Homo sapiens: one gene and its partner. Each later gene encodes a partner of the first gene's protein in a complex. Each region holds a gene or a part of one and is shown in the gene's direction. Other genes may lie near its edges.

What was found.
Region 2: the proteins of F2 (region 1) and F2R are in contact, whole or in part, in a crystal structure (PDB 3LU9), measured with the Homo sapiens proteins. Residues at the interface, in NP_000497.1 of Homo sapiens: Phe382, Arg383, Pro386, Gln387, Glu388, Leu389, Leu390, Cys391, His406, Cys407, Tyr410, Trp413, Lys415, Leu423, Arg425, Arg431, Thr432, Arg433, Tyr434, Ile441, Met443, Glu457, Asn458, Leu459, Asn506 (codon at 282), Thr510 (codon at 294), Lys517 (codon at 315), Gly518 (codon at 318), Gln519 (codon at 321), Arg541 (codon at 387); in NP_001983.2 of Homo sapiens: Ala33, Thr34, Asn35, Thr37, Leu38, Asp39, Pro40, Arg41, Ser42, Phe43, Leu44, Leu45, Arg46, Asn47, Pro48, Asp50, Lys51, Tyr52, Glu53, Pro54, Phe55, Trp56.

What each region holds. Positions count from the first base shown.
Region 1 is NC_000011.10:46,729,142-46,738,799, forward strand, and holds part of F2 (prothrombin preproprotein), read left to right. Parts: intron 1-238; coding exon 239-420; intron 421-9,658. UniProt on the Homo sapiens protein: Thrombin, which cleaves bonds after Arg and Lys, converts fibrinogen to fibrin and activates factors V, VII, VIII, XIII, and, in complex with thrombomodulin, protein C. Functions in blood homeostasis, inflammation and wound healing.
Region 2 is NC_000005.10:76,710,761-76,720,303, forward strand, and holds the start of F2R (proteinase-activated receptor 1 isoform 1 precursor), read left to right. Parts: upstream 1-5,365; 5' UTR 5,366-5,547; coding exon 5,548-5,635; intron 5,636-9,543. UniProt on the Homo sapiens protein: High affinity receptor that binds the activated thrombin, leading to calcium release from intracellular stores.

The sequences.
Region 1 (9,658 bases):
AATTTTTGTATTTTTAGTAGAGACTGGTGGGTTTCACCGTGTCGGCCAGGTTGGTCTCGAACCCCTGACCTCAAGTGATTCACCCGCCTCGGCCTCCCAAAGTGCCGAGACCACAGGCGTGAACGTCTGTGCCCAGCCAGCTCTGGCGTTTTAGATTCTGGTCTCTAAGAAATGGCGTTGGGGCCAGGCGGCTCCTGTGGGGGTTGGCTCTCACTAGGCCCTTCTTCCTTCCCCAAAGCTTGCTCCAGGCTGGATACAAGGGGCGGGTGACAGGCTGGGGCAACCTGAAGGAGACGTGGACAGCCAACGTTGGTAAGGGGCAGCCCAGTGTCCTGCAGGTGGTGAACCTGCCCATTGTGGAGCGGCCGGTCTGCAAGGACTCCACCCGGATCCGCATCACTGACAACATGTTCTGTGCTGGCAAGTCTGTGCAGGGCGGGCTGAGGGAACAGTGGGGCCCAAGCTGGGAGAACTGAGTTGTGCCTGGGTTCAAGCCATGTGACTTTGAGCAAGTTGCCTAACCTCTTGGTGGCTCAGTTTCTTCCTCTGTAAAATGGAGGTAAAAGTCTCTATCCCATAAGGTTATGGGAGGGTTAAATGAAGTAGTATATATTAATGTACTTGGCATAGTATCAGTCACCAGTGAGCTCAGATAGCAGCAAGAGGCTGCGGGTAGGGAAATGCCATTCATTCAGTCACTCAGCAAATATTTATTGAGCGCCTATCACGTTCCAGGCAGCGTTCTAGGGTATACAGCAGGGACCCAGACGGACAATGTCTGTGCCCTCAGAGAGCTTCCTTCCTAGGAGGGCACATCCATAAACAGATCTAAAACAGCAATCCCTGACCAGTGCTGTGAAGAAAAATGAAGCACAGGGAGAGAGAACGGCTGATGAAGTGGGCTTCTAAATAGGGTGGCCAGACAAGGTGGGCAGATCACTTGAGGTCAGGAGTTCAAGACCAGCCTGGCCAACATGGTGAAACCCCGTCTCTACTAAAAATACAAAAATTAGCTGGTCATGGTGACGCATGCCTGTAGTCGCAGCTACTCAGGAGGCTGAGGCAGGAGAATTGCTTGAGCCAGGGAGGCGGAGGTTGCAGTGAGCTGAGATCGGGCATCATTGCACTCCAGCTGGGCAACACAGCAAGACTCCATTGATCGATCGATCAATCAATCAATCAGGTGGCCAGAGAAGGTTGGAGAAGGCCTCCCTGAGAAGGTGATGTCTGGGCAGGGACTGGAAGAGGGGAAGGAAGGAGTGAGCAGGCATATCTAGGGGAGGAGCACCGCAGGCTGGGGGCATGGCAGGCACTAAGGCCCTGAGGTGGGAGCACTCTTGGCTTGTCTGGGGAGCAGTAGGGAGGCCTGGGGGGCTGAGGAGGGGCAGCAGTGGGTGAGGGGAGAGAGGGGGGCAGGCAGAGGACAGCCACTTCCTTTAGGGCCTGGAAGGACTTTATTGAGTGAGATGGGAAGTTATTGAGGGGCTTGAGGCAGGTTAAGAAATGATGTGACTGACTTTAAAAGTAAAAAATAAAAAAATTTAGTGTAATTTCAGACTCACAGAAAAGTTGTAAAAATAATACAAAGATTTCCTGTATACTGTCATCCAGATTGTCCTCCATTCTGTGGATGTGTGGGAATTTTTATATATATATATGCATAGTTTGAGAGCAAATCATGAATATGGTTTCTTTTTACCCATAAATACTTGAGTATTTCCAAAAAAAAAAAAAATACCCAAGGATGTTCTCTTATGCAACCACAATACAAATATTAAAACCCGGAAATTTTTTTTTGACATAGCTTCGCTGTCACCCAGGCTTGAGTGCAGTGGCACAATCTCGGCTCACTGCAACCTCCTGCTCCCAGGTTCAAGTGATTCTCCTGCCTCAGCCTCCTGAGTAGCTGGAATCACAGGCATGTACTACCATGCCTAGCTAATTTTTGTATTTGTAGTAGAGACAGGGTTTCACCATGTTGGCCAGGCTGGTCTTGAACTCCTGACCTCAGGTGATCCACCTGCCTCGGCCTCCCAAAGTGCTGGGATTACAGGCGTGAACCACTGTACTCGGCCAAAACCAGGAAATTTTTTTTTTTTTTTGAGATGGAATCTTGCTCTGTTGCCCAGGCTAGAGTGCAGTGGCATGGTCTCGGCTTACTTGGAATTACAGGTGCCTGCCACCACGCCCGGCTAACTTTTTGTATTTTTAGTATTTTTAGTAGTGATGGGGTTTCACCATGTTGGCCAGGCTGGTCTTGAACTCCTGACCTCGGGTAATCCACCCACCTCGGCTTCCCAAAGTGCTGGGATTACAGGCGTGAGCCACAGCACCTGGCCCAAAACCAGGAAATTAATGATGATACAATATTATTGTCTAATCTATAGACCTTATTCAAATTTTTGTTAGTCTTGCTAATGTCTTTTATAGGGAAAAAAAAAAAAAAAAGCGTGTTTCTCACCCAGGATTCAATGAAGGATCTTTCTTTGTCTTCTATGACCTTGACATGTCTGATGAGTGCAGTCTGGTTATTTTGTACACTGGCCCTGAATCCGGGTTTGTCTAAGGTTTCCTCACGGTCAGGTTCGGGCTCAGTGGTGCCATGTCCTTCTTGGTGCATCCTGTTAACTGGCACATGAGAACAATTTGTCTCATATGTGGTGAGTCTAACTCTGACCTCTTGAGGAAGGCAATGTCTGCCAAGTTTCTTGCTGTAACTTCTGTTTTTCCCTTTGTAATTAATAAGAATCTGGTAAAGAGACACTTTGATGTTTTTTTTTTTTTTTTTTTTTTGTGATGGAGTCTCCCTCTATCACCCGGGCTGGAGTGTGTGGTGCGATCTCGGCTCACTGCAACCTCCATCCCCCAGGTTCAAGTGATTCTCCTGCCTCAGCCTCCCAAGTAGCAGGGATTACAGGCATGTGCCACCACACCCAGCTAATTTTTGTATTTTTAGTAGAGATGGGGTTTCACCATGTTGGCCAGGATGGTCTCGAACTCCTGACCTTGTGATCCGTCTGCCTCAGCCTCCCAAAGTGCTGGGATTACAGGTGTGAGCCAATACGCCTGGCCTACTTTGATATTTTGTATTCTGTTTGCATCAAAACCTTCTCCCAACTAGGGTGACTACCAAATGGCACTTATCTAATTCTGTCATTCCTTCTACATTTGTTAGTTACTTTATTGCTTTCCTTCCTTTCATTCTATCAGTGTGGACTTAAGGATCCTTACTTTATTCTAAGGGTTCACCTTTTTTTTTCTTTTTTTTTGAGATGGAGTTTCGCCCATGTTGCCCAGGCTGGATGGAGTGCAATGGCGTGATCTCGGCTCACTGCAACGTCCTCCTCCCAGGTTCAAGCAATTCTCCTGCCTCAGCCTCCTGAGTAGCTGGGATTACAGGCATGTGCCACCACGCCTGGCTAATTTTTTGTATTTTTAGTAGAGACAGGGTTTCACCATGTTGGCCAGGCTGGTCTCGAACTCCTGACCTCAGGTGATCCGCCCGCCTCAGCCTTCCAAGGTTCTGGGATTATAGGCGTGAGCTCTACCGTGCCAGGCCATACTTTGTTACTACTGTTATTTTTTCTGATGCTCAGATGATCCCAAGTTTGGCCTGTGGAAGTCCCTTCAAGCTGGCTTCTGTGACTTGGGGAGATGTTCTGTCATTCTTTGAGTACTTTCTTTCTTTCTGGCACAGCAAAATGATTCAGGTTAATCCTACTTTCCTTACTGTAGTGTTGGAACCAGCCATTTCTCCAGGGAACCCTTGTAGTCAAGAGTGGAATTTAGAACTGAGATCTGGGTGCTGGCGTGTGCACATTGCTAGTGGGATGTCATTACTTCTAGGCTCTCTTAGTGGACAGAACCAGAAAAAAATTATATGATGCATATACCAATATCTCTATCATCTATATAAAAAACCATGAGTTCCTACTGAAACCTCCAATTCCATTCTAACACCACAGGATTAATTTTAGCTTTTCCTTTTCCATATTTGTAACTCTCTCTGTTGACAGTGAGAAACCTGACCCTCATTATCTGTAATGCATTTGCCTATTTGAACAATACTAGAATATAGTTTCAAAATCCTCCATCCATAACACTATTAAAACCAATCCTATGGCTGGGCTCAGCCCACTGCAACCTCTGCCTCCTGGACTCAAGCCAGCCTCCCACTTTAGCCTCCCGAGTAGCCAGGGCTACAGGCACACACCACCATGCCCAGCTAATTTTTGTATTTTTTGTAGAGACTGGGTCTCACTGTGTTGCCCAGACAGGTCTTGAACTCTGAGCTCAAGTGATCCATCCAACTCAGCCTCCCAAAGTGCTAGGATTACAGGTGTGAGCCACCATGCCTGGCCTCTCCTAGTAAATTTTTAGAAGTGGTGTTGTTAGGTCAAAAGGCAAACATGTATGTCATTTTTTAGAGATTTTTAAATTTCTTTCCATAAGGGTTGTACCAGTTTGCATTTCCATCACAGTGTATGAGAATGCCTGTTTCCCCACAACCTTGCCAAAAGAATGTCACAGTTTTAAATTTTTACCAATCTGAGAGGTGAGAAATAGTATCTTGAAATTGTTTTAACGGACATCTTTCAAATTGAAAATGAGGTTGAACATCGTATCATATGATTAAGGACCTTTTTTTTTTTTTTTTTTTTTTTTGAGATGGAGTCTCCCTCTGTCACCTAGGCTGGAGTGCAATGGCACGATTTTGGCTCACTGCAACTTCCGCCTTCTGGGTTCAAGCGATTCTCCTGCTTCAGCCTCCCAAGCAGCTGGGACTCCAGGCGCGAGTCACCATGCCCGCTAATTTTTGTATTTTTAGTAGAGACAGGGTTTTACCAGATTGGCCAGGCTGGTCTCGAACTCCTTACCTTGTGATCCTCCCGCCTCGGCCTCCCAAAGTGCTGAGATTACAGGCATGAGCCACCACGCCTGGCCTAAGGACCATTTTTATATAATTTTTTTTTTGAGACAGAGTCTTGCTTTGTCACCCAGGCTGGAGTGCAATGGTGCAATCTTGGCTCACTGCAGCCTCCACTTCCCTGGTTCAAGTGATTCTCCTGCCTCAGCCTCCCGAGTAGCTGGTTCCACAGGTGCGTGCCTGGCTAGTATTTGTATTATATAATTTTTTTGTGAATTGTCTCTTCATGGTTTTTTGCCCATTTTTTGGTCCCTTTCTTATCAATTTTTGTGAGTTCTTCGTATTTATATTAGGCCTTTATTTGTGATATACATTGCAAATGTTTTCTCCTAGTTTGTCAGTTTTTTTAACCTCATGTATAATTTTTCTGGCCATGCAGTTTAAAAAATTACTAGGTAGTCAAATTTATCAATCATTTATTTTATTAAATCTGGATTTTGAATCAGAGATAAACTTTTCCTGGCCAGGTGTGGTGTCTTACACCTGTAATCCCAGCACTCTGAGAGGCTGAGGTGGGGGATCACCTGAGGTCAGAAGTTCAAGACCAGCCTGGCCAACATGGTGAAACCCTGTCTCTACTAAAAATACAAAAATTAGCTGGGCGTGGTGGCTGATGCCTGTAGTCCCAGCTACTCAGGAGACTGAGGCTGGAGAATTGCTTGAACCTGGGAGGCGGAGGTTGCAGTGAGCAGAGATCGTGCCGCTGCACTCCAGCCTGGGTGACAGAGCAAGACTCTGTCTCAAAAACAAAACGACAAAAAACAACAACAGAAAAGCCTTTCCTGATAGCTAGGTCATTGAGGAATTCACTCATGTTTTCTTCTAGTACCTGATTTCATTTTTCTGCACTTAGATTCCTGACTCATATGGAGTTTATTTTTGTATCTGATGTGAGGCATAGATCTAATTTATTATTTTCCAAATGGCTAACTAGCTGTCTCTAAACCCTTTATTAAAAATTATTGGCCAAGTGCGGTAGCTCACACCTGTAATCCCAGCAGTTTGGAAGGCTGAGGCAGGATTGCTTGAGGCCAGGAATTCAAAACCAGCCCAGACAACATAGCAAGACCCTGTCTCTACAAGAAAATATTGGTCAGGTGTGGTGGCTCACGCCTATAATCCCAGCACTTTGGGAGGCTGAGGCAGGTGGATCATGAGGTCAGGAGATAGAGACCATCCTGGCCAACATGGTGAAACCCTCGTCTCTACTAAAATACAAAAAATTAGCTGGGTGTGGTGGCGCATGCCTGTAGTACCAGCTACTCAGGAGGCTGAGGCAGGGGAATCATTTGAACCCAGGAGGTGGAGGTTGCAGTGAGCTGAGATCACGCCATTGAACTCCAGCCTGGCGACAGAGCAAGACTCCATCTCAAAAAAAAAAGGAAAAAGAAAATATTTTAAAAATTAGCTGGGCATGGTGGCATGTGCCTTGTAGTCTCAGCTACTTGAGAGGCTGAGTTAGGAGGATTGCTTGAGCCTAGGAGTTCAATACTGCAGTGAGCTATGACCGCACCATTGCACTCCAGCCTGGGCAACAGAGTGAGACCCTGTTTCTATTAAAAAAAAAAAATCGGCTGGGCGCGGTGGCTCACGCCTGTAATCCTAGCACTTTGGGAGGCCGAGGCGAGCGGATCACCTGAGGTCAGGAGTTCAAGACCAGCCTGACCAACATGGAAAAACCCTGTCTCTGCTAAAAATACAAAATTAGCCAGACATGGAGGCACATGTCTGTAATCCCAGCTACTCGGGAGGCTGAGGCAGGAGAATCGCTTGAACCTGGGAGACGGAGGTTGCAGTGAGCTGAGATCCCTCCATTGCACTCCAGCCTGGGCAACAAGAGTAAAAACTCCGTTTCGCCAGGTGCGGTGGCTCACACCTGTAATCCCAGCACTTTGGGAGGCCGAGGTGGGTGGATCACAAGGTCAGGAGTTTGAGACAAGCCTGGCCGACATGGTGAAACCCCATCTCTACTAAAATACAAAAAATTAGCCTGGCATGGTGGTGTGCGCCTGTAATCCCAGCTACTTGGGAGGCTGAGGCAGGGGAATCACTTGAACCTGGGAGGAGGAGGTTGCAGTGAGCCGAGATGGTGCCACTGCACTCCAGCCTGGCAACAGAGCGAGACTCTATCTCAAAATCAATCAATCAATCAATCAATCTTTGAACTAGTGATTTGAGATTTCACCTTTATCACATTCTAGATTGTATCTTATTTTCATTTATTTATTTGAAATATAGACAAGTCTCCCTGTGCTGCCCAGGCTGATTTCAAACTCCTGGCTGGGCTCGAGCAAGTCTCCCGCCTTGGCCTCCCAAACTGCTGGGATTACAGACGTGAGCCACCATACCTGACCTAGGTTTTATTTTTTAGTTTTATTTTTTCCTGCATCCAGCTAATTTGATTTGATTTGTAGAGACGGGGTCTTGCTATGTTACCTAGGCTGGTCTCGAACTCCTGGGCTCAAGTGATCCTCCTGCCTTGGCCTCCCAAAGTGTTGGGATTACCAGCATGAGCCACGGTGCCCAGCCCCACGTTCTAGATTTCTATGGATAGAGTATGCTTAAGGATGAGTATGTTTCTGGATGTTCGACTCGGCTTTCCTGGTCTGTTGTCTGTCTGTGTACAGCGTCACATTGTTTTAATGATAGAGGCTTTAGCGTACATAGCTGGGAAGGCTAATGTTCTCTTTTAGTTTTTCTTTCCAGTGGTTTCCTGGCAATTCTTGCATGTTTGTTTTTCCATATGAACTTTAGTGTCAACATGCCTAGGTCTATAAAAAAGCTTGGTGGTAATTTTATTGGGATTATGACACTTCAACAAATTAACTGGGAGAATGGACATATTTTTGATGTTGAGTCATTTTATCCAAGGATAAGAAACGTTTTCCTATTTGCTCAAGTCTATTATTGTATCTTTCTTGACTGCTGCAATGTATTCTCTTATAATTTTTTCTATTGGTATCTTATTTTATGTATTTGTAATATCTTATTTTTCTTGAGTAAATTAGTTAATGGCTTGCCGGTTTTCTCAAAACAAATATCTAGGGATTTGATTTATGAAATTATTAGGCCTATTATTTTTCTTTTTTTTGAGATGGAGTCTCACTCTGTCGCCCAGGCTGGAGTGCAGTGGCGTGATCTCAGCTCACTGCAACCTCCACCTCCTGGGTTCAAGTGATTCTCCTGCCTCAGCCTCCCCAGTAGCTGGGGTTACAGGTGCACGCCACCATGCCCGGCTAATTTTTTTATATTTTTAGTAGAGACGGGGTTTCACCATGTTAGCCAGGCTGGTCTCGAACTCCTGACCTCATGATCCGACTGCCTCAGCCTCCCAAAGTGCTGGGATTACAGGTGTGAGCCACCGTGCCTGGCCTTTTTTTTTTTTTTTTTGAGACAGAGTCTTGCTCTGTCACCCAGGCTGGAGTGCAGTGGTGCGATCTCGGCTCACTGAAAGCTCCACCTCCCGGGTTCACGCCATCCTCCTGCCTCAGCCTCCCGAGTAGCTGGGACTACAGGTGTACACTGCCACGCCCAGCTAATTTTTTGTATTTAGTAGAGACAGGGTTTCACCGCGTTCGCCAGGATGGTCTCGATCTCCTGACCTTGTGATCCGCCTGCCTCAGCCTCCCAAAGTGCTGGTATTACGGGCGTGAGCCACTGCGCCCGGCCAGGCCTATTATTTTTCTATTGTGGTTCATTAATTTCTGCTTTTTTCTCTTAAAAAGTTTGCTTACGTTTTTGTCTGGTTTACTTTGCTGTTCTCTTGCTAGCTTTTTTTTTTTTCAGATAGGGTCTTGCTCTGTTGCCCAGGCTGGAGTGCAGTGGCACAGTCATAGCTCACTGCAGCCTTGAACTCCTGGGCTCAAGCAATCCTCTTCTTGCTTCAGCCTCCCACGTAGCTAGGATCAGAGGTACATGCCACCATGTCCGGCTAATTTTTTTTTTTCGAGACAGAGTCTTGTTCTGTCGCTCAGGCGGTAGTGCAGTGGTGCAATCCCGGCTCACTGCAACCTCCACCTCCACCTCCCAGGTTCAAGCAATTCTACCTCAGTCTCCTGAGTAGCTGGGATTATAGGCGCACACCAACATGTCTGGCTAATTTTTGTATTTTTAGTAGAGACAGGGTTTCACCACGTTGGCCAGGCTGGTCTTAAACTCCTGACTTCATGATCCGCCCGCCTTGGCCTCCCAAAGTGCTGAGATTACAGGTGTGAGCCACAGCACCTAGTGAAGGTGTGGTTTTTTTGTGTAGGTTTTACTGTTGTTAGTGTTGTTCTGTATTGTTTGTAGAGGATACGTGGGGAGATTTGGATAAAAGCAACTATCATTATTATCCTCATCAGACTTGTAGGTCTAACTTTTTAATTTTTTAATTTTTAATTTAAATTTTTTTCTTGGTCTTTTATCATTAATTAATTTTTTCGAGACAGGGTCTCACTCTGTTGCCCAGGCTGGAGTGTGGTGACATGATCACGGCTCACTGCAGCCTTAACCTCCCAGGCGCAAGTGATCCTCCTCTCTTAGCCTCCCGAGTAGCTGGGACTCCAGGCATGTGCCACCATGCCCAGCTAATTTTTTGTAGAGAGAGGGTTTTGCCATATTGCCCAGGCTGGTCTTGAACTGCTGAGCTCAAGTGATCCACCCGGCTTGGGCATGAGCCACCTCCCCTGGTCTGGTCCAACTTTTTAAAAGCATTATTCTGCCTGTTGGGTGGAGAATAGACTGTAGGTG
Region 2 (9,543 bases), on another chromosome or scaffold:
CCTGATTACAAACCTTCTGTTTGCTTTAAAAAAAATGTGGCAATATATACACAGAATCTGGTAGTGCCTCAACCTACTTTGAATACTTTCATATGAGCTCTGGTATCCCCATCATTTAGCTTCCAAAAGGAAATTACTATGCAAGTTCTTAGAATATACTATTGTCTTTGGAACACTTCAAATAGAAGAGTGGTAACCAGAATACCTGAAGCAGGTAGATCATCTGATGGCTTACATGAAACTGCTTTCGTATCATCTAGTTATTAAAATGTTTACCACGTTGATGCCACATTTGTTTGAAAACACTACTAAATACCATAAACATTATGGGAGGATGGCTAATGACTCATACTATTTGGTACCAGGCAAGTTAAAACAGAGAAAATGAAAACCGGAAACTAATATCAAGTGGTTCCAATATGAATGATGCTGCAAAGTCAAGATTTCATTTCCAAGAAATATTTTTAGCAACTCTGGTTAGGCAGATTTTCAACATGTTTATCATCTCTGGTTAAGTAGATTTTCTACTCTCAGAAACCTACAGATGTTTGCTTTAAAACTGACAAAGGGGTTTTGGTAGGAGTGGCGTGGAACAAATGAAGTAGTGGGTTATCTTCTTCAAAAAGCTCTTAAGAGGCCGGGTACGGTGGCTCACGCCTGTAATCCCAGCACTTTGGGAGGCCAAGGCGGGCAGATCACCTGAGGTCGGGTTTTAGGAACAGGGCGCCAAATCTGGCCATAAACTGGCCCAAAAACTGGCCATAAACAAAATCTCTGCAGCACTGTGACATGTTCGTGATGGCCATGACGCTCACGCTGGAAGGCTGTGGGTTTACTGGAATGAGCGCAAGGAACACCTGGCCCACCCAGGGCAGAAAACCGCTTAAGGCATTCTTAAACCACAAACAGTAGCATGAGTGATCTGTGCCTGGACATGTTCCTGCTGCAGATAACTAGCAAGAGCCATCCCTTTGTTTTGGCCCATCCCTTTATTTCCCATAAGTAATACTTTTAGTAAATGTTATGACTGGCTTGCTGTCAATAAATATGTGGGTAAATCTCTGTTCGAGGCTCTCAGCTCTGAAGGCTGTGAGATCCCTGATTTCCCACTCCACAATCTATATTTCTGTGTGTGTGTCTTTAATTCCTCTAGCACCGCTAGGTTAGGGTCTCCACCACCGAGCTGGTCTCGGCAGTCGGGAGTTCGAGATCAGCCTGACCAACATGGAGAAACCCAGTCTCTACTAAAAAAAATACAAAAATTAGCCGGGCATGGTGGCACATGCCTGAATCCCAGCTACTTGGGAGGCTGAGGCAGGAGAATCGCTCCAACCCAGGAGGCGGAGGTTGTGGTGAGCCAAGATCCGGCCGTTGCACTCCAGCCTGGGCAACAAGTGCAAAACTCCGTCTCAAAAAAAAAAAAAAAAAAGCTCTTAAGAGCACATAAACATAGGAACTTTGTGAAGTCTAAGGACAAAACAAAAAACAACATCACTAACAGACCATAAAATTAGAAATCAGTCACAAAAAGCCAGTCAAAATATCCAAGAATTTATGGTTGAAGATTGAATGAAATTGACAAAATATTTAGACCTGAATTTTATATATGCACATATCAAAACTTGCAAAATGTAGCTGATGTGGTCTTTTGAAGGAGAAGAGGTAAAAAATAATCAGTTCAAAAAATTATACTAAAGAGGCCGGGCGCGGTGGCTCACGCCTGTAATCCCAGCACTTCGGGAGGCCATGGCGGGCGGATCATGAGGTCAGGAGATCGAGACCAACCTGGCTAACACGGTGAAACCCCGTCTCTACTAAAAATACAGAAAAATTAGCCGGGCGTGGTGGCAGGCGCCTGTAGTCCCAGCTACTCAGGAGGCTGAGGCAGTAGAATGGCGTAAACCCAGGAGGCGGAGGTTGCAGTGAGCCGAGATCGCGCCACTGCACTCCAGCCTGGGCGATACAGCGAGACTCCGTCTCAAAAAAAAAAAAAAAAAAAATTATGCTAAAGAGTAAACTCAAAGAAAGTAGAGGAAAAGAATGAATTAAAAATCTGTGTTTATAAATAAAAATAAAAGTAACGGAGCAAAAAGACGGGCATTAGAAAATAGTCATTTCTGACCTCTGGTCAGATAAAGGGAAAAAAGCAAAAAATTAGCTATGTTAGGAATATAAATGGGGACAACACTACAGATAAAATAGTTTTAGAAGACTAAAATTTATTATATGTATACAAGGGAATAGTATACTATTTAAAAAGAATTAGATAAACATGTACCAAACAAGCCTCAAAAAATACAACTGGCAGAAATATTCCTAGAAGGAATCCTTTAGTCAATATGCACAAAGCATTTAAGCATTTCATTATTTTTGTTTTTTTTTTTTTTTTTGCTTTTGTTTTTGTTTTTTTGAGACAGAGTCTTGCTCTGTTGCCCAGACTGGAGTGCAGTGGTGCAATTTTGGCTCACAGCAAACTCTGCCTCCCAGGTTCAAGTGATTCTCCTGCGTCAGCCTCCCAAGTAACTGGGATTACAGGTGCACACCACCAAGCCCGGCTAATTTTTGTATTTTTAGTAGAGACGGAGTTTCTCTATGCTGGCCAGGCTGGTCTCTAACTCCTGACCTCAAGTGATTTGACCGCCTCAGTTTCTCAAAGTGCTGGGATTACAGGTGTGAGCCACTGCACCCAGCCTTCATTGTACGTCTTTTTGTCACTAGAGGTACATTTTGTTCTAACAACTAAGACCCCAAAGCATCCTTTTAAGCTTTATCGTTTTGTAAAATGGTTAAAAATAACATTTTCCACCAATGACACAGATAAAATTTTAAAATGTGGTGGTATTATTCCATTCTTATTTTAAGGATATACATATATGCAATTTGTATGTGGATATGATTTTTTGAATGGTGAACAGAAACTTAGTGGTCAGGTAGCTGGATGCGGTGGCTCATGCCTGTAATCCCAGCACTTTGGGAGGCTAAGGCGGGTGGATCACCTGAGTTCAGGAGTTTGAGGCCAACCTGGCCAATATGGTGAAACCCAGTCTCTACTAAAAATACAAAAAATTAGCCAGGCGCGGTGGTAGGCGCCTGTAATCCCAAGTACTCGGGAGGCTGAGGCAGGAGAATCGCTTGAACCCAGGAGACGGAGGTTGCTGTGAGCCGAGTCCGCGCCATTGCACTCCAGCCTGGGCAACAAGAGTGAAACTCCGCCTCAGGAAAAAAAAGAAAGAAAGAAAATAAGAAAGACAGAGAGAGAGAGAGAGGAAGGAAGGAAGAGAGGAAGGAAGGAAGGAAGAGAGGGAGGGAGGAAGGAAGGAAGGAAGGAAGGAAGGAAGGAAGGAAGGAAGGAGGGGAAACTTAGTGGTCAGATGGCAACTAGGGGAGGGGAGGCAGAAGGTAATTTATTTTTCATTTCATATCCTTCAACTATCAGAAATTTTGTCATATGTGTTTATATTTTCCACTGTGTTTCATTGATTCTAAAATGCCTTTTCTTCATAACCCTGAAATTGGAGTGTTTCTTACAATCATTGGTATGTCACATTTTTTTCTGGCTTGTGGTAATGGGTTAAAATGATAAATTGTAAAATCAATGACGTCTTAGGAATAATGAAAAATAGTTTAATAGTGAATGAAGAACTATGTAATTTTAACTGTTCACATTTACTCTTGGGTATGTTTCCAGAGGATAACTGAACGGGGATAGATTTTAAAAAGCTTTATTTAACTGGGTACTTCCGCAATTTAGTGATCAACTTCTGTGTACAACAAGGTACTGTCCTTTGAGGATGATGGGAGAATACAGGGAAGAACGAAATCGCCTCTGATCGTACTTTCTCCACGGATGTAAGTGTCCGGGCTCTAGTGGGGGAATGATACTCTTCGTGCGAAATTCACTTTTAAAAAAGGCTTAGAAAACTGACCACCGGCTCTCAGCTGCAGCTTATCAACCACAGAACTCCGAATATGCCCGCACATCAGTGCGCTGGGTTAAGAGGAGAAGGGGCTGCGGCTGAGCTTTCCTAGAAACAGCTATTTGGGGACCCATTTCCTGTTGGAGTCTGAAAGGCGCACGCACCAGAGCCAGTGGCAAAGCAACTTAAGCTGCAGGCTCCTCCTGCCCACCCCCAGCCGCGACGCCCCTGGGGGCCCTTAGCAGACTGCCAAGCGAGTGTCCCCGCCCTGTGCCTTGAATTTAGCCAAACTCCTTTAATATCAGGCCTGGCGCGGTGATTCACGCCTGTAATCCCCGCACTTTAGGAGGCTGAGGCAGGAGGATCGCTTGAGGCCAGCAGTGAAATTAGCCGGACATGGTGGCGCGCGCCTTTCTGTGGTCCCAGGTAATCCGGAGGCTGGGGCGAAAGGGTGGCCTGAGCCAGGGAGATCGAGGCTGCAGTGAGCCGTGTTGGCGCCACTGCACTCCAGCCTGGGCGACAGGGCAAGACCCTGCCTCAAAAACAAAACAAACTGTAATATCGTTCAAGAACGTGTGAAGGACACTTGGAAAGTTACCAGGCCATTTCTCTCCTGGGCGCCCGCGGCCCTAGAACGCCGGCCTCACCGGCAGACGCGCGCCCTCCTCCCAGATGCGCAGGTGACCCCGGCGGGCGGCGCGGGAAAGGGAAGAGCTCCGCGAGGCCGCGCGGGGGGGAAGCGGGAGAAGCCGCTCTTCCTATTCCACTCGCAGTCTGCGTGTGGGGGAAACGAGTGCCCGGCGTATGAAACGCCTAACTTCGCGAAATAAAGAGAGACGTATAAAAGTTCAAGAATTCTGTCCAGACTCAAGGGCCCTTTCTCATTTAGGGGCAACCCTGTCACTACATCATAAACTTTTAAATCCGTGATCCCCACGTTACAAAAGCAGAAGTCCCTTTTAGACTTTTAGCGAAAACTGAACTTTGCCGGTGTCCCACACGGAGGGAGGGAGGACGGGAGGCCACGCCAGGGCTGCGGGGCTGCAGGGCGTGGACGCATCCTGGCCGGGGCGTCCACTGTCGACGTCTCCACATCCCAGGAGGGTCGAGACGGCCGCGGGAAGCAGCCTGCGAGCCGTGCGGCCCCATTCCAAGGACCCCGCCAGTGTGAGTCACTGACAGCTTCGCGAATCAACGGTGCCCAGAGGAAAAAACTTCTCATTTGGACTTCTAGGCCCGGCAGTGGCCGGCGGCCAGGGCCCCCCAGTAGGGCAGGGCGGGGCGGGGCGGGGCGCACAGAGCCAGAGGGGCTTGCGAGCGGCGGCTGAGGGACCGCGGGGAGGGGGCGCCGAGCGGCTCCAGCGCAGAGACTCTCACTGCACGCCGGAGGGCGCCCTTCCTCGCTCGCGCCCGCGCGACCGCGCGCCCCAGTCCCGCCCCGCCCCGCTAACCGCCCCAGACACAGCGCTCGCCGAGGGTCGCTTGGACCCTGATCTTACCCGTGGGCACCCTGCGCTCTGCCTGCCGCGAAGACCGGCTCCCCGACCCGCAGAAGTCAGGAGAGAGGGTGAAGCGGAGCAGCCCGAGGCGGGGCAGCCTCCCGGAGCAGCGCCGCGCAGAGCCCGGGACAATGGGGCCGCGGCGGCTGCTGCTGGTGGCCGCCTGCTTCAGTCTGTGCGGCCCGCTGTTGTCTGCCCGCACCCGGGCCCGCAGGCCAGGTGAGAGATGCACGGGAATGGGGTGCGCGGGCGGAGGGACGCCGAGGGGAGACTGCGGGGGTCACTGTTGCGCCTTCTCCTCACCCCTGCCTCAGTTTCCTCCGAAAGCCAAACTGGCATTTGGGCTGAGATCTGGAGTTTTTTCCAGTCACGTTTAGGTGGGGCGTGCCACCCCCTTCGCGGGCCCAGCCGATGCCCCTTTGGACTCGATCTTGGAGGGTGCAGCCCGCCTGCCACGGGGTGTTGGATATGGAGGAGGATGGAGCGGAAGCCCCCTGGGGGAGCCTGCAGTCCTGCGTTGCACTTGTCATTGTGTTTCTCCCAGGACCACCCCCAAAAAGAAAAGCTCTCACGTTGCTCCACCAATAAACGTTTCGATCTTTAAAATATAAAGTGGCGAACCGCTGCCGCTGAAGTTTTGCTTTGTTGGAAGTTTTTTTCTTGCACATTTTACAGGCGAGAAAAGTGATGTAGAGAAAAGCCCAGGCAGTCCCTTGGCATGTTTAGCAGAGAATCAGTACCAGCAGCCCCCGGCCCGGCCTTGTGTCCAGGAGGTGCGCAGGGTGCGAGATATATGGTGACAATAGCAGAGGCTCCGCGTGGTGGCGGGGGAGGGGACATGGAGAGGATTTTGTTGTTACCTAGAACCCATTCCTTCTAAGTGAGTTGAAGAGAGAGATCCCTCCCCAGGACCGGGCTCCCTCGAACACTGTGGGATCCCAGTATTTCTTAACGAGATTTCTGATCCACTGCAAGAAGGTTGCTCCCCTAGAATATTTTCCCCACTAGTAGTCTATTTTTAAGTATCTGGCCACTTGACCAAATAAATAAATTTGATTAATTTATTTGGTCAAATATTTTCTGTATCCCTTTCCCCAAGAGCAGCACAGATGAGTTGTTTTTAGCCTGTAAAGGCGCTAATTAGAAAGTGAGAAAAGTGTTTTTGAATTTCCTAATAACAATAGTATTTTATAAGCTTTGAGCCATTTTTTTTACGCTGAAAGAAGTTCTAGCGGGTTTTCTTGTTATCGCTAAAAGAATGTGCACTCTATATTGCTCCCACACTCAAAAAAAAGTGTAGACACATCAAGATTAAGAGGTGACAAAGACATAGCATGTTCTCGCCTCTCTGTCTTTGTTCAGGGTGAGTTTTGAGATGCTTTTGGGAAAACTAAGAGCTCCAGACTGGGGCCCAGTGTTTAGCAGTAACTAGCCTGCCTGCAGATAAGTGAGCATTGTTGCCGAAAGTGTTTGAGAGAACACCGAGAACTCCTGAAAAATTGTTTGCGATGAGATATGATTTCACATACCATTATGTAATTTGCACAATGTAGTTTGAGGACACGCTCTTGAGAATCCAGTGTTTTGTTTGAGATTTGGATCATGGGGTGGAGAACAGAGCTTATAGAAATGCTGCACCCTTTCTCACAGTGGCCTCCCAGCAAGGTGTGTAGCCTCATTAGGGAGTGAAGTCAAAGCGTACTGGTTTCTGCCAAGCTTCTTACATCCTCATGGCAGGAGTGGTGCATGTTAATATGGACAGTGCTGGTGTAGACAGAAAGGCAGGTGGATGAACTTGGCTAGTTTATCAACACTGGATTCTGGAACCACTTTGGGAGGGAAAGAAGAAAGGAGTATGATAGAGGAAAAGGAGCGCTTGCTAAGTGCCATATTCCATGTCAAGCCCTGGGCCAGAAGGAATTTTCACTTGGATTGTCTCATTTCACCTTGTCAAAACACCTTGTTAAGGTGGGTATTTATCCCCTTTTGCTGATTCTGCAACTAAGACCCAGAGACAGCGGCTAAGCAAGTGGTGGCGGGTGGGGCAGGGAAGGGGCAGTCCACCCACCCTGGGTGCAAGCAATTAGGAATAAGTGGGGCTTTGTCTTTAGAAAATTTAAAATCACTAATAAAATCAACCCAAGATAGGTTTACTTTCTATTACCACCATGCATTGACAATTCTAAGCATTGTCTGTCATAAGGTAGTGGTGCTGGGACTCTGAGGCATCCAACAGTGCCTCCCATCCTTGAACCGCCACCGCTGTGATAGAGTTTATTGTCCAGGATTACCAGCTCTGTGTGCCAAGAGGGGCGGTGAAGCCCTCCCAGGGCTGGCCCTGACCACCAAGCTGAGCCTTCCTCCAGCACTTCCCGACTTTTTGTTCCCACTCATTTTGGCATTTCCTGCCTTGTCACTTTGTGTGTGTGTCTCATTCTCCCAACTAAGATTATAAAGTTTTATTTATCCCCATGGTGACTAAAACAAATGTTCACTCAGCAGATAGTTGTTGAGAAATGTGTAAATTCATCAACCAGTTTACATTCGTCTAGACAATTTAAGTGAGATGATATGTGATCATTAAAAGGGCCAACATCCAAGAGTAAAAGGTGATGTTTATAAATTTTATGGGGCTCTAGAGGGTTAAAGTGTTCAAGAATAGCTGGTGGTGACTATGACAGAGAGAACTTGGTGGGCAATTCCACTTGCTACCCTCCTACTCACAGAGTCAAGCCCAATTCTCTGGCATGGAATGAAGTGCTCCTCCCCTTGCAGGAGGGTCCCCAGCCCCTCTCCAGCCATCTCCTATTACTCACCCTCCAGTTCACCCAGCCCCATCCTCTAGATCCTCCCTTCAAGGAGCTATGCTTTCTCTGGCTTCTGTCCGCATGCCACTCCCTCTGGCCAGAATGCCCTCCCCATATCCCATACCCGCCACGTTCATGTTTAATTAAAAACAGCTACCCTCTGTGGAGTACTGACTACAGCTGACATCCTTCTTAGGGACGTTACAATACTATCTTATTTATTTCTCACAACAGCCCTTTGAGTAGATGTCATCCTCATTTTACTGGTTATAAAACAGAGACCCAGAATGGTTAAGTCACAAGTTGAGAAAGAGGTGGAATTGGGACTGGGTGCGGTGGCTCATGCCTGTAATCCCAGCACTTTGGGAGGCCAAAGCAGGGGGATCACTTGAGGCCAGGAGTTTGAGACCAGCCTGACCAACATGGTGAAACCCTGTCTCTACTAAAAATACAAAATTAGCTGGGTATGGTGGTGCACACCTGTAGTCACAGCTACTTGGGAGGCTGAGGCACCAGAATTGCCTGAACCTGGAAGGCAGAGGTTGCAGGGAACTGAGATTGTGCCACTGCACTCCAGTCTGAGCAACAGAGTGAGACTCTCTCTCAAAAAAAAAAAGAGGTGGAATTGGGAGTTGACCACAGGCCTGTCTCTCCGAAGTGCAGGCTTTCTCTAACACCCCCTATAGAAAGGAAGCCATCTAGACTCCCAGCACCTCTTACAGTAGAGAAGTAACCCCACTGTGCTCCCTAGTACAGTATGGATTTACCTATTTTTGATAATTCATCAAAATATAGAAGCAAAGTCTGTGCCCTATCGCCTTGGTAGCTCAGGCCCAGCACAGGGAGGTATTTAGTGAGCATTTATGCACGGACTGTGGTATTCTCTCATTTACTTTCGCTAACAGATGATAAGGCAGGCTCTGAAAAGATCCCTGCTCATGAATACACTAATTAATCAGATGTTACAAGAGATATTGCTAGTAAACCTAAACAGAAAGACAGAAAACTGAGCAGTGGTTCTACCGTAAGCAGACCAGAAAGCTCTATAAAGCCTGAAAGTCAGATTTCTTATGAGTCAGCAAGTAATTTTCTGCCCTACTATCTATCTATCTATCTATATCTAATAATTTTTAGTGGCTTTGCCTTTATTTTTATAGAACATACCAGCATAGCAGGTTCTCAGGGTCTGGGTGCAGTGGCTCACACCTGTAATCCCAGCACTTTGGGAACCCTAGGCCAGATGATCGCTTGAGACCAGCCTAGGCAACATAGTAAGACCCCATCTCTATTAAAAAAAATAATTAAAAAGTAGCCAGGCAC